Homo sapiens: one gene and its partners. The protein of the gene in region 3 interacts with the protein of the main gene of each other region in a pairwise test. Each region holds a gene or a part of one and is shown on either strand. Other genes may lie near its edges.

Region 1 (3,657 bases), on a different chromosome or scaffold from region 3:
TGTCATCCACTTTACTATATTACTATAATGTATCAGCAGACATTTATTGAGTAATTAATTTGTGCCAGACTGTATGTTAAATACACCTTACAACAACCCTGTGAAGTCTGGTATTATTATCCCTATTTTTAAAATGAGAAAGCTGACACTTGCAGAGAGGTTAAGTAGGATCTGAACAAAAATGGAAAGGAAGGAATGCATATGTAGGGAATTTGGAAAAACATGTACAGCTTGCTGATTGGCAGTAAAAATTTGCAGAAGTGGTGTCGAAAGGGATTTAAAGTTTAGGTAACTAAACACTCACAATAAAAAATTGGAAAAAAGGGCTCAAGAAGCTGACTTCAGAGGTAGGCAAATGGGCAAGGAACAGAAGAGAGTAATACCTTCCTCAAGTTAATATGTATTTCTAATGAATTATTTCTGTTTTAATTAGTTAAAAAAACTGGTGCCATCCAAAATTCAACTAATGTGTAGTACTTTAAATATATTTGTAGTGTTCTAGTATTGCAATGATGTGTTTGAAACTTCAAAAGTGCAGAGTATTCATATTACTATGCTAATCTCTAGGCTACAAAAACAAATGCCCAGGAAAATTTTTATTACATGAGACACATTAAATTGAACTGTAGATTATTTTTATAGTTTCAACTTCATTCTAAATGTCTTTTTAGCTCAATCAGTAAAACCAAGTACAAGAAGAAAGAAAGGAATAGAACTGGGAGACATTCAGAGTTCCATCGAATCTATAAAACAAACACAGGAAGAAATTAAAAGGTAATAATATAATGACACTGACTATTCATTTGAGACCAAGGAGTAGTTAAGAATCCTGTTATATGGGAAATCATATGCAGACTTCATATTTTTATAACATTTAGCTAAGCTAAAATACAATGTTTAGCCTCTATCACCTGATGTTTGACACTTACGAAATTCCTCCAGCACTAAAATACTTGGGAAGGAAGGAGAGGTTGTTTTTTCTCTGTAAGGGTAGAATTGGAATCACTTTATTTTACTCCTATAGCATGCTAGGAATGTAGCTGGGTTGCATGTGGAGGTGGGATTGTTTCTGAGAAAGTCAGTTAACAAAGGCCTCTATAGTCCCCTCTGTGCATGGCTGTTATTTCATTGGAATGCATCAGTTGAAATATTGAAATACATCCATAACATTGGGTAAATATTTACTCCCTGAGCCCTTAAGTATTCCTCTTTGCAGTCCCAGACCCCGCCCCCCCCCACCCCTACATACCACCCCATGACCCAGCAACTAAAAATTATTAACATTAAATGCTCTGTGACTGTTTAATATCAAATTGTGGGCTCTATGCCAACATTTCTGGCAAATCATTACAAAATTTGTTGTTGCTTATTTTTATAGAAATATTATGGCTCTTCGAAATCATTTAGTTTCAAGCACACCGGCCACGGATTATTTTCTGCAACAAAAAGACTACTTCATCATTTTCCTCCTGATTTTGCTTCAAGTCATAATAAACTTCATGTTCAAGTAGAAGTTCTCTACCATTGAATCAGTGAACTAGAAAGATCTGATTTGGCCTGGGACCAGTGTTCAAGTTGGTTTGGTCTTTATTAAAAATCACAATATTCCGAAAACAAAAAAACCTAGGAGATAAATGTAGAGGTATTGACTTTTCGTATCTTTTATCTTCACACTGAAACAAGAGCTATCCTATTTGATTATTAAAGTGAGCTATGTGTTAAGTGCCAGGACATTTCTAGCTTTTGTGAGAATGTGTCTACATATGAGTATAATAAACCCACATGTATACACAATTGTCTCTTATGTACTCCTACCTGACAGTAGTCTTTGTATTCTATAGTATGTTCTGAGATATAATGTTAACATTGTTCATAACAAAAAATGCTATCAATCTTATAAATATATGTAATCTATTTTCTTCATAAAACAGGCACAAAAGTTTTATCAGTAAGGAATTACAGATTGAGAAATGATGGAATAATAGACATAATTAATTCAATACACTACTGTTAAAATCATTTGCAAAGCACTCAGCTCAATTATCTTCTTAGAAAGAAAGAAAAAGTATGAATGGTCAAAATGAATACATCGAGAGAGATAAATGGCAAATTGCTTTTTTAAAAGTTTACATAAGTTTTTTTTAACCCCTAGAATTTAATATTTGTAGATGCAGGTAAATATATATACTTACGTGTATATCAGTATAAAAACACTGGTGTGCAATTAATTGGATTGATTATAATACCACCTTAAGCACTTGCTGAAAAAAGTGTGGTCAAAATTGATTGCTGTCCTTTTGTCTTATTTTTGTTTTTCTTAAGTCAGCTGGTTCATAACATAGGCCAAATTCTAGAGATGTTTATAGAGCATTTGAAGTGCTGATAATTTATGTTTTTTCATTATGAAAACTTATTTTAGCTTTAGACTCCAGTGTGTTCAGTGAATAAGTAGAATATAAAAAAATATAACCAGTATTTTACTTCAAAAGCCAAAAAGAGGCAATAAGAAAAGACACTTTGTGGTGGCCTTTATGTGTGCATTAAAATTGGTTTCTGTAAAACGTGTAATAAGTTGAGTATCTACGAAGAGTATCAAGTTCTGAAGTTTAATTTTTTTATTATCCTCCTCTCTTCTTAGTAACTTCTTTCTGTGGCAAAACCACAATTCTTTAAGATTCCTATTGTTCAGGCTAAGGCAAATTTTTTTGTTTGTTTCTTCAGTTTAATATTTTGATTTTGTGTTTTTACGTAAATATTTATATTCCTTGAAAGCAATTTTTGCCAAGGTAGTTCAGTTTAGGAATATGTTGTTCTAAAATATGTCTTAGAATCCTGAAAGCATAGATTTTGAAATGTTTTTTTAATGAAAATGAAGGTCAGAGAGAATAATTGCCCTGACCACATTTGCCTTTCAGTAGGAGGAGGCTGTGAAATAGTAAAATTATAATCGTTTATGCCATGATAAATACAAGATTGGTAAATAAATACATTGATTGGTAAATTATGAGAATCAAAATGATAAAAAGAGCCTGCTTTTTTCCCTAACCAATATAGCTATCTTAAGTATCCTTAGGTTTCTGTGAAGAACCATTTCCCATGTTTTCTTGGCAAAATAATGCTGTATTCCATATGTACATGTGAAATGATGTTTTAAATTGATAAAAGCTTAAATAAGATCTACCTATACCCAGTATTTTCATGATATTAGAACAAATGGGTTTTTGGTTATATTTTATATTTGTCAATATAATTTTTGTATTCACATTCTGTTACACTCTGCCTATTCATTGATATATGATATTCTGTAAATATTGTACAATTTGATCTTTTTTATGGTTTAAATTAGTTAATTACATACAAATTGATTGGCTTATCACAAAAATCATTTCATCAGTAAACCTTGTTAACATTTTGTACTGGTGACCCACCTCTTAGGACTTTGGTCTTATCCACGTGTATGTTGTTTTCATTTGGTCCAAATAATATTTTATTTGTATGGGTATCTTCTAAGACTAAATAGGTAGTTGTGTTCTTTATTTTTAAAATTTCTTTTTAGAGCAAATGTTATGGGTTCTTACCCAAAGAGTCAAAAACTATTTCTTAAGAAAGAGCAGAGTTATTCATGACTGTTCTTTATACACTAAAAGCATGCATCTA
Region 2 (3,657 bases), on a different chromosome or scaffold from region 3:
ATGTAAAATGTAAGATGGTAAAAAATGTCTGACTGTATCAATAACAGTAAGTGTACAGATGGGCTAAATTCTGCAGTTTAAAAACAGACTGTCCTGGTAGATTAAGATAAACTAGCTCTATGTTATTTCATTAGATGCACTAAAATCCACAACAACACATAAAAATTGAGTCTCAAAAATAAGAAAGATATACCAGGTGAATATTAACCAAAATAAAGTTTGTTTGCTAAATTAATTTCATAGATTTTGAGACAAAAGGCACTATTAGAGGTAATGACATGAGGATGTAAAGTACCAATTAGGAAGATATAAAATTCTAGTCTCATAAAACTTATAAAGCAGAAGCTAGCACAATTAAAGGATAAATAACACAAATCATCACTATAAGACTTTCAAACACTGCTCAGCAATAGAAAGATCATATGAAAAAAAGGATATGAAGATTTGAACAACACAATGAGTATGCTTAATCTAGCACACTGAGGGACACTACTGAATGTATGGAGTATACATAGATTCTTGAAGCACACATGAAGTGTTTATAAAAACTGACCATACTGTATGGTGAATATACTGTAAAGCCAGTCTTAAACCTTCCAAATTTGGTATATAAAACATCTCATGGGCCCCTTAAATATATATACCTACTATGTGCCCACAAAAATTAAAACTTAGAAAAAGATTTGGTATACAAACATGTTCTCTGACATGTCTTAATTACAATGTAACTAAGTTGTAAGTTAATAACGAGATTACATTGAACTATATGAAATGGGTGTTTTGGTAGTTTTAAAATATGGTTGAATATTAGTGGTTTCATATTTTTCAAGCAAACAGAAAAAAGTAACACATTTGGAATTCAGAAAACATCACACTTCCAAATAACTTATGCTTTTATAAAAGAATTGAATTAGAAAATACATAATACTATGGTTATTGATTAGTTCTAAGTACCACAACTTGTAGAATGTAGCTAAACTGGTCCTTAGGAAAAAAATAAGCTTTATATGTTTATATTAGAAAAGAAGTGAACTTAAAAATTAACTTAAGCAGCTGGAACGGGAAGAGCAGAAAATACGATGATGAACTAGAAAACAACAGTATCACTCAAGCTACAAACTGGTTCTTTGAAAACTACTAGGAAAAAAATCGGGCAAAATTCTTCAAAGACAAAAGGAGAAAAACACAACTACAAATGTTGCAGAGATTAACAAGACATGAATAACTTTAATCAAATTCAAAACTTTCAGGAAATAAATTGATTCCTACAGAAATACAACTTACCAAAACTGTGTAGAAATTACAATAAAAAGAACTAGCTGGTGATGGTTGAGTAACACTGTGAATGCAATGAATGCCACTGACTTGTACATTTAAAAATGATTAAAATGGCAAATTTGGCTTTAGGTATTTTACCACAATTTAAAAAATATAAAAGAAGAATCTAGACTGATCCCGTCAGCAAGGTGCTAGGTCTTCCCAGCTTAACTCACTGCCCAGATATTCTTTTAAAACAGAAAACAAAACTAGATTATTTAGGTTTTCACCAAAAAACACCATGCTCAAAGGCTTTATCAGTCAGTTATGCCACTCAAAGAAGAAAGAATTCCAGTCTGGATGAAAATATTCCAGAGATTAGGCATATTTATGAAGACTGGTTACTTAAACTACACTTCAATGTAATTTGTCACTAATGTTTGCATTATTTCAGGTATAGATAACTTATCCACTCTATAGGCAAGAGCTGGGTATCTGGAAGGTTTTATTTAATATAGCCTTTATGCAAACCCCAGAATTGTGTATGGTTCAAAATGTCATGTTTGCCTTTGGTTATTCTATTAACAGCAGTTTACAATATTACAAGGGAAAAAAATATGGTCACTTTTAAACTAATTTCACAAAACAGTTTAACTTATCAAAGGGATTACCGTGATTAAGAGTATAAAAGGAAGAATATTCTTTGAGATTGGCATACTGATATCAAACATGACAAGGCCACTTTAAGTAAACAAAATTATAGGCAAATTTCAACATAGATTCAGATATTCTAAGGAAAATAAGTCCAAACAAAAAATGTCAATAAATAGGAAATATAGTACAACAGAATTAAGTTAGGTTTACCAGAGGAATGCAAGAGATGCTTGCTATTAGAAAATCAATATAATTTGCTTCATTAATAGAGCAAAAGAAAAATTGTATGATCAACTCAAAGTGATAAAAACCAGTATCACATAATGATTTCAAAAATAAATTTTTTCAACCTGAAAACTTTCGGGCTGAATTTAATTCAGCCAGCTTATTTATTTTTATTTTTATTTTTTTTTTGAGACACTCTTGGTCTGTTTCCCAGGCTGGAGTGCAGTGGTGCGATCTCTGCTCACTGCAACCTCGCCAGGTTCAGGTGATTCTCCTGCCTCAGCCTCCCAAGTAGCTGGGACTACAGACGCGTGCCACCACACCCAGCTATGTTTTTGTATTTTTAGTAGAGACGGGGTTTCACCGTGTTAGCCAGGATGGTCTTGATCTGCTGACCTCATGATCCGCCCGCCTGGGCCTCCCAAAGTGCTGGGATTACAGGCGTGAGCCACCACGCCCAGCCTCAGCTGACTTTTGAAAACACAATTCAAAGATGGGCAAATGATCTGAATGTACATTTTTCTAAAGATAAAAAGGTCAACTGCACATGAAAAGATGCTGAACATCATTAGACACCAGGGAAATGCAAATCAAAACCACATTAAGATACCACTTCACACATTAAGGTGAGTGTAATTAAAAAGACAAGTGTGGATGAGGATGTGGAGAAATTCTCTTGTTTTTTTGTGGAGGGGAGTGAAGTGGGAAGTGGTGCTGCCACGTTGGCAAACAGCCTAGCATTTTACCAGAAGATTAAACATAAAAGTTCGTCTCATGAACAAGGCATTCCACTCCTAGGTATATACCCAAGAGAAATATTCACAGCAGCATTATTCATATTAGCCAAAAAGGAGAAACAACCCAAATGTCTATCTACCGATGAACGGATAAATGAAAATGTGGTATATCCATACAATGGACTATCATTTGACAATAGAAAATGAAGGCCAGGCATGGTGACTCATGCCTGTAATCCTCAGCACTTAGGGAGGCTGTAGTGGGTGGATCACATTAACCCAGGAGTTCAGACCAGCCTGGTAACACAGTGAGATCTCATCTCTACCAAAAATTTAAAAAAATAGCCAGGCTTGGTGGCCCACACCTGTGGTCCTACCTACTCGGGAGGCTAAGGTGGAAGGCCGAGCTAGGGAGGTCGAGGGCACCACGGCACTCCAGCCTGGGTGACAGAGAAAGACCTTGTCTCATTAAAAAAAGGAATGAGGCTAGGCACGGTGGCTCACGCCTGTAGTCCCAGCACTTTGGGAAGCCAAGGTGGGCGCATCACGAGGTCAGGAGATCCAGACCACTCTGGCCAACATGGTGAAAGAACGTCTCTACTAAAAATACAAAAATTAGCCGGGTGTGGTGGAGCATGCCTGTAATCCTAGCTACTTGGGAGGCTGAGGCAGGAGAATCACTTGAACCCGGGAGGCAGAGGTTGCAGTGAGCCGAGATTGCGCCACTGCACTCTAGCCTGGCGACAGAGGTAGATTTGGTGCTGTGACTCAGATCTGGGGACCT
Region 3 (3,657 bases):
CTATGTGCAGCATTGTGGGTGCAGTGGTTTGCCTTCTTTCAGAAACGCATACTTCCCACTCCTTTGACTTTGCCAAAGATGGTATAGCAGACATTTGACATAGCAGAAAACATCACAAAGTCCATATAACTTCTTTTAATCTGAGGAGGGAGGAGATGGGGAGTTGGAAAAATAAAAATTAAAAAAGCCAGACTCTAAGCCCTATTAAATTTAGTTTGGGGATCTCGTTTCATTGAATGGGTCCATGGCCCTTTGGTGCAATTAATTTTGACTGCACTAAGGCCTGCGGCATTATAGACTTGATTGTGGGAGTTGCTGAAATTCCATTGGTACAATTTTCCAGTTTGTCTCTAGGGTTGCTTGGCCCCCAGTCTGCAAGTATTAGAGCCAGTTTTAATAGATGGCTGTGGTCCTCTGGCGAAAGAAGAAGATAAAATGTTAAATTCTGGTGTCTTACAAAAAAAAATGTGAAAATGGGACCAAAGAATGTCTCTTGTTTTTGGACTAAAAAGCATATGGTTTCTACTATGTAAAGAACCTAAAAACATCTTTGATTGCCTTTAATTACAACACTCACCAAAATATGCTGCACATGTTTCTATTGGGCACAATAGGTATGCCTGGATTTTAAGTCTTTTCTCCAAGGCAGCTCAGTGAAATACAGCCCATGGAGACCATACCAGCATTAAACCACTCTCCTCCATTACAACCCCAGGATAGTTTAAACTAGGAGTTTGTAAGCACTCTCTGCCCTGCCCCTCAGCCCAACAAAGAAGCTACTGAACCTGCGTTTCAAATCCTCATGAAGGCTATTACTGTCCTGCTAGTGCCTTTTTCGAGAATGGTCAACTTCTGGAGTAGTTTGGCTTAAATGAGAATGCTTCACTTTCTACTCATGCCTGTAGCTGGTGCATGAAGAAGACGTAGAGGGGTTTCCCTTTTTGGTGCTAGATGGCTTGTTCTCTCTTCTCTTTTCCTGCATTCATTTCACTATGCTTCTTTTACTTTTTGTCTCTGTGGACAAAGGTTTGTACATCAACTCTGGATGTATGGTGACTGTTTGGAAGTACCGATATATTATCTAATTCAAATCACTCTAGAGGCAATGCAAAGACCATCACTCTTGGCCAACCACCAATCCTTTATGTCCTTCATGGAGCTTTGGAAATGTTAGTTCCACACGTGTTGGGAAAAAAAAATATTCCACAGGGATCTTTGCATGATGGTGTGTAAAAACTTGGTTGAGGATGTTTTCTTGATGACAGTGTGTTGCTGTGGTGTGATGTGCACACTCTACTTGGCAGTCTTGTTTTGTGTCTGTCTGCCAGTATGTTTTTCTCTGTTTTATGTCTCCAAATATAATCACATCACTAAAATAGAATTAAATGTCCTCCAGCTACCTTAATCCTTGTCCAAAATCCAAACTAAACCACAAAACAAACCAAAACAAGAACAACCTTGTGGGCAAAGATTGCAGTCCATTGCAATGGATTCGATTGGAAGTGAAATGTTGAGTAGCTGAGGCATGGTGGTGGCCAACTGTTTGGGTCTGGATTATGATATATCGGTATTATCTAATGCCTCGACTTAAAACTCATTCGCTTGGTTCGATTCTTCGCTTGAAGAAGTGACAATTGTTGAGAGCTTGCTCCTCCACCCCTGTGCCTTGTCACTCACCCTCTCTTTTGCATAGGCTTAAATCAAGTGATGCTTACAAAAAAGCCTGGGGCAATAATCAGGACGGAGTGGTGGCCAGCCAGCCTGCTCGTGTAGTGGACGAACGGGAGCAGATGGCCATCAGTGGCGGCTTCATCCGCAGGTGAGCCTCATGCAGCATACACTGTAGCAGTTCTCTATTGTCAAGTACAAACAACTCCAAAACTGAGTGGTTTTCTAAAAAACAACCATTTTATTGCTCATTAATCTACATACCTGCTAAGTGTTCTTTTCTAAGCCTTTCCTGGACCTTGCCTGGGTGGGGTGATCCAAGATGGCCCCATTCACTTGTCTGGTGGTTGGCTGGGGCTGTTGGTGGGGCATGTCTGTTCTTCTCCATGTGGCCTCTTCAGCAAGAGAGCCCAGGTTCCTTACATGGTGGTAGCAGTATTCCAAGGGGGCAAGCCTCAGTGCACTTACCAAACCTTTGCTTGCTTACCTTGTATTTGCCGGTTTCATTAGACAAAGCAAGTCACATGACCACATCCAGACTCAATGTGGCAGTAGACAGGCATCACATTCCATGAGTTTAATTGAATAGAGCTTATAAAAGAGACTACTTACAGAGGGGTGGGCAGGACTAATAACAAGGAATGGTGAAGCACTTCTGAGCTAGCAATAGCAGGAAGTTGTTACCACCATAGTCCTGGGGGACAGGAGAAGGAATGATTATCAGAACCCAGCAATAGTTACGACTGTGGGCAAGGAACTATCAGTAGAGAAATACAGCCACTACCAAAGCTAACAGGGAGTGAAAGAGGGAAATAAATGCTGTAGCCCCTCACTCCTCTTGCCCTGCAGTTTCATTGGCCATTAGCCAAAGCCTACTGAAAGCCAGAGGGTAAGAGGAGCTGGGTGATATAGTCATGAGGTCAGCTCCTGAGAGCACAGAGCAAAGAAGGTCCAAGAACGGATTTGGAGTGAAAATAGAGAATAATGAGCTTCTTATTAATGATTTATTTTGAAACCTAGAATCAAAAGCCAATTTAAATATCTATTTTTAAAAGTTCAAATTATGACTCAGGGGCATTTCCTTTAAAAAAAAAAAAAACTCAAGTTACACACATCAGCCAATTCAGAACTCAGCTCTCCCTTTGCTCCCAGGGAAAGTAGCCCAAGGGTTCTCAAGCCTGGCTGTACATTAGAATCACCAGGGGAGACTTTTTTTTCTTTTACTACCAGTGTTTGGGCCCAATCCACACCAATTGAACCAGAATCTCTTGAAGTGAGACACAAGCACCTGTGGCCCATTAAAGCTCCTCAGGTGATTCTGATATGCACTCAGGGCCAAGCACCATTGAACTAGAAGTATCTCTTAGCTATTGATGATCATTTAAATAAACTTCTTCCCTACAGGAAAAAGCCAGAAAGTTCTCCTTTAGTTTTTTAATTTTCTCTGCCCTGGGCTGCTTTTGAAACCATAATGAGCCAGTCTGCATTGGGAGTTACCATGGGGGAAGGATTTTAACCCTTCTGAATATTTTTTAGCTCAATACCATATATACTAGGGAAATTCTGAAATAAGTACCTCCTTAACTTTCAAGTTGGACTGTGAAAAAATGTAATGTGTTTTGTGAGCCAGCTCCTTCCTCCCATTCCCATTCCACTCAACCTGAAACAATACTCTTTTGTCACAGTTTCACAGTTTTTGACTCTGAAATCACCTATGCACCATGCCACTAAAAAACCCATGTTATTAACATATGAGTAAATAAAAATCATCTTGAACAAGTAGCTCTCCTTGGAGTTCCTGGGAGCAAGCAGGGTTAAGGGGCAAACTGTAATTATCATTACTCTTCCCATTGGTGTCAATCCCAAGTGTGAAAAGAGATGAGCACAGAGACTCTGACTTAGCACAATAAGCTTTTTATTGTATTCTTAATTTGAGTCTTAGAAATTTTGAGACTTAATTTGAGTCTTAGAAATATTAAGAATATTCTT

What was found.
Region 1: the proteins of SNAP25 (region 3) and OSBPL8 interact in a protein complementation assay, tested with the Homo sapiens proteins (one study listed by BioGRID).
Region 2: the proteins of SNAP25 (region 3) and ZNF177 interact in binary tests that used the Homo sapiens proteins (3 or more experiments, as listed by UniProt).

What each region holds. Positions count from the first base shown.
Region 1 is NC_000012.12:76,353,743-76,357,399, reverse strand, and holds part of OSBPL8 (oxysterol-binding protein-related protein 8), read left to right. Parts: intron 1-671; coding exon 672-774; intron 775-1,378; coding exon 1,379-1,511; 3' UTR 1,512-3,657. UniProt on the Homo sapiens protein: Lipid transporter involved in lipid countertransport between the endoplasmic reticulum and the plasma membrane: specifically exchanges phosphatidylserine with phosphatidylinositol 4-phosphate (PI4P), delivering phosphatidylserine to the plasma membrane in exchange for PI4P, which is degraded by the SAC1/SACM1L phosphatase in the endoplasmic reticulum.
Region 2 is NC_000019.10:9,365,981-9,369,637, reverse strand, and holds part of ZNF177 (zinc finger protein 177), read right to left. Parts: intron 1-3,657. UniProt on the Homo sapiens protein: May be involved in transcriptional regulation.
Region 3 is NC_000020.11:10,295,232-10,298,888, forward strand, and holds part of SNAP25 (synaptosomal-associated protein 25), read left to right. Parts: intron 1-1,693; coding exon 1,694-1,819; coding exon of another isoform or gene 1,820-1,823; intron 1,824-3,657.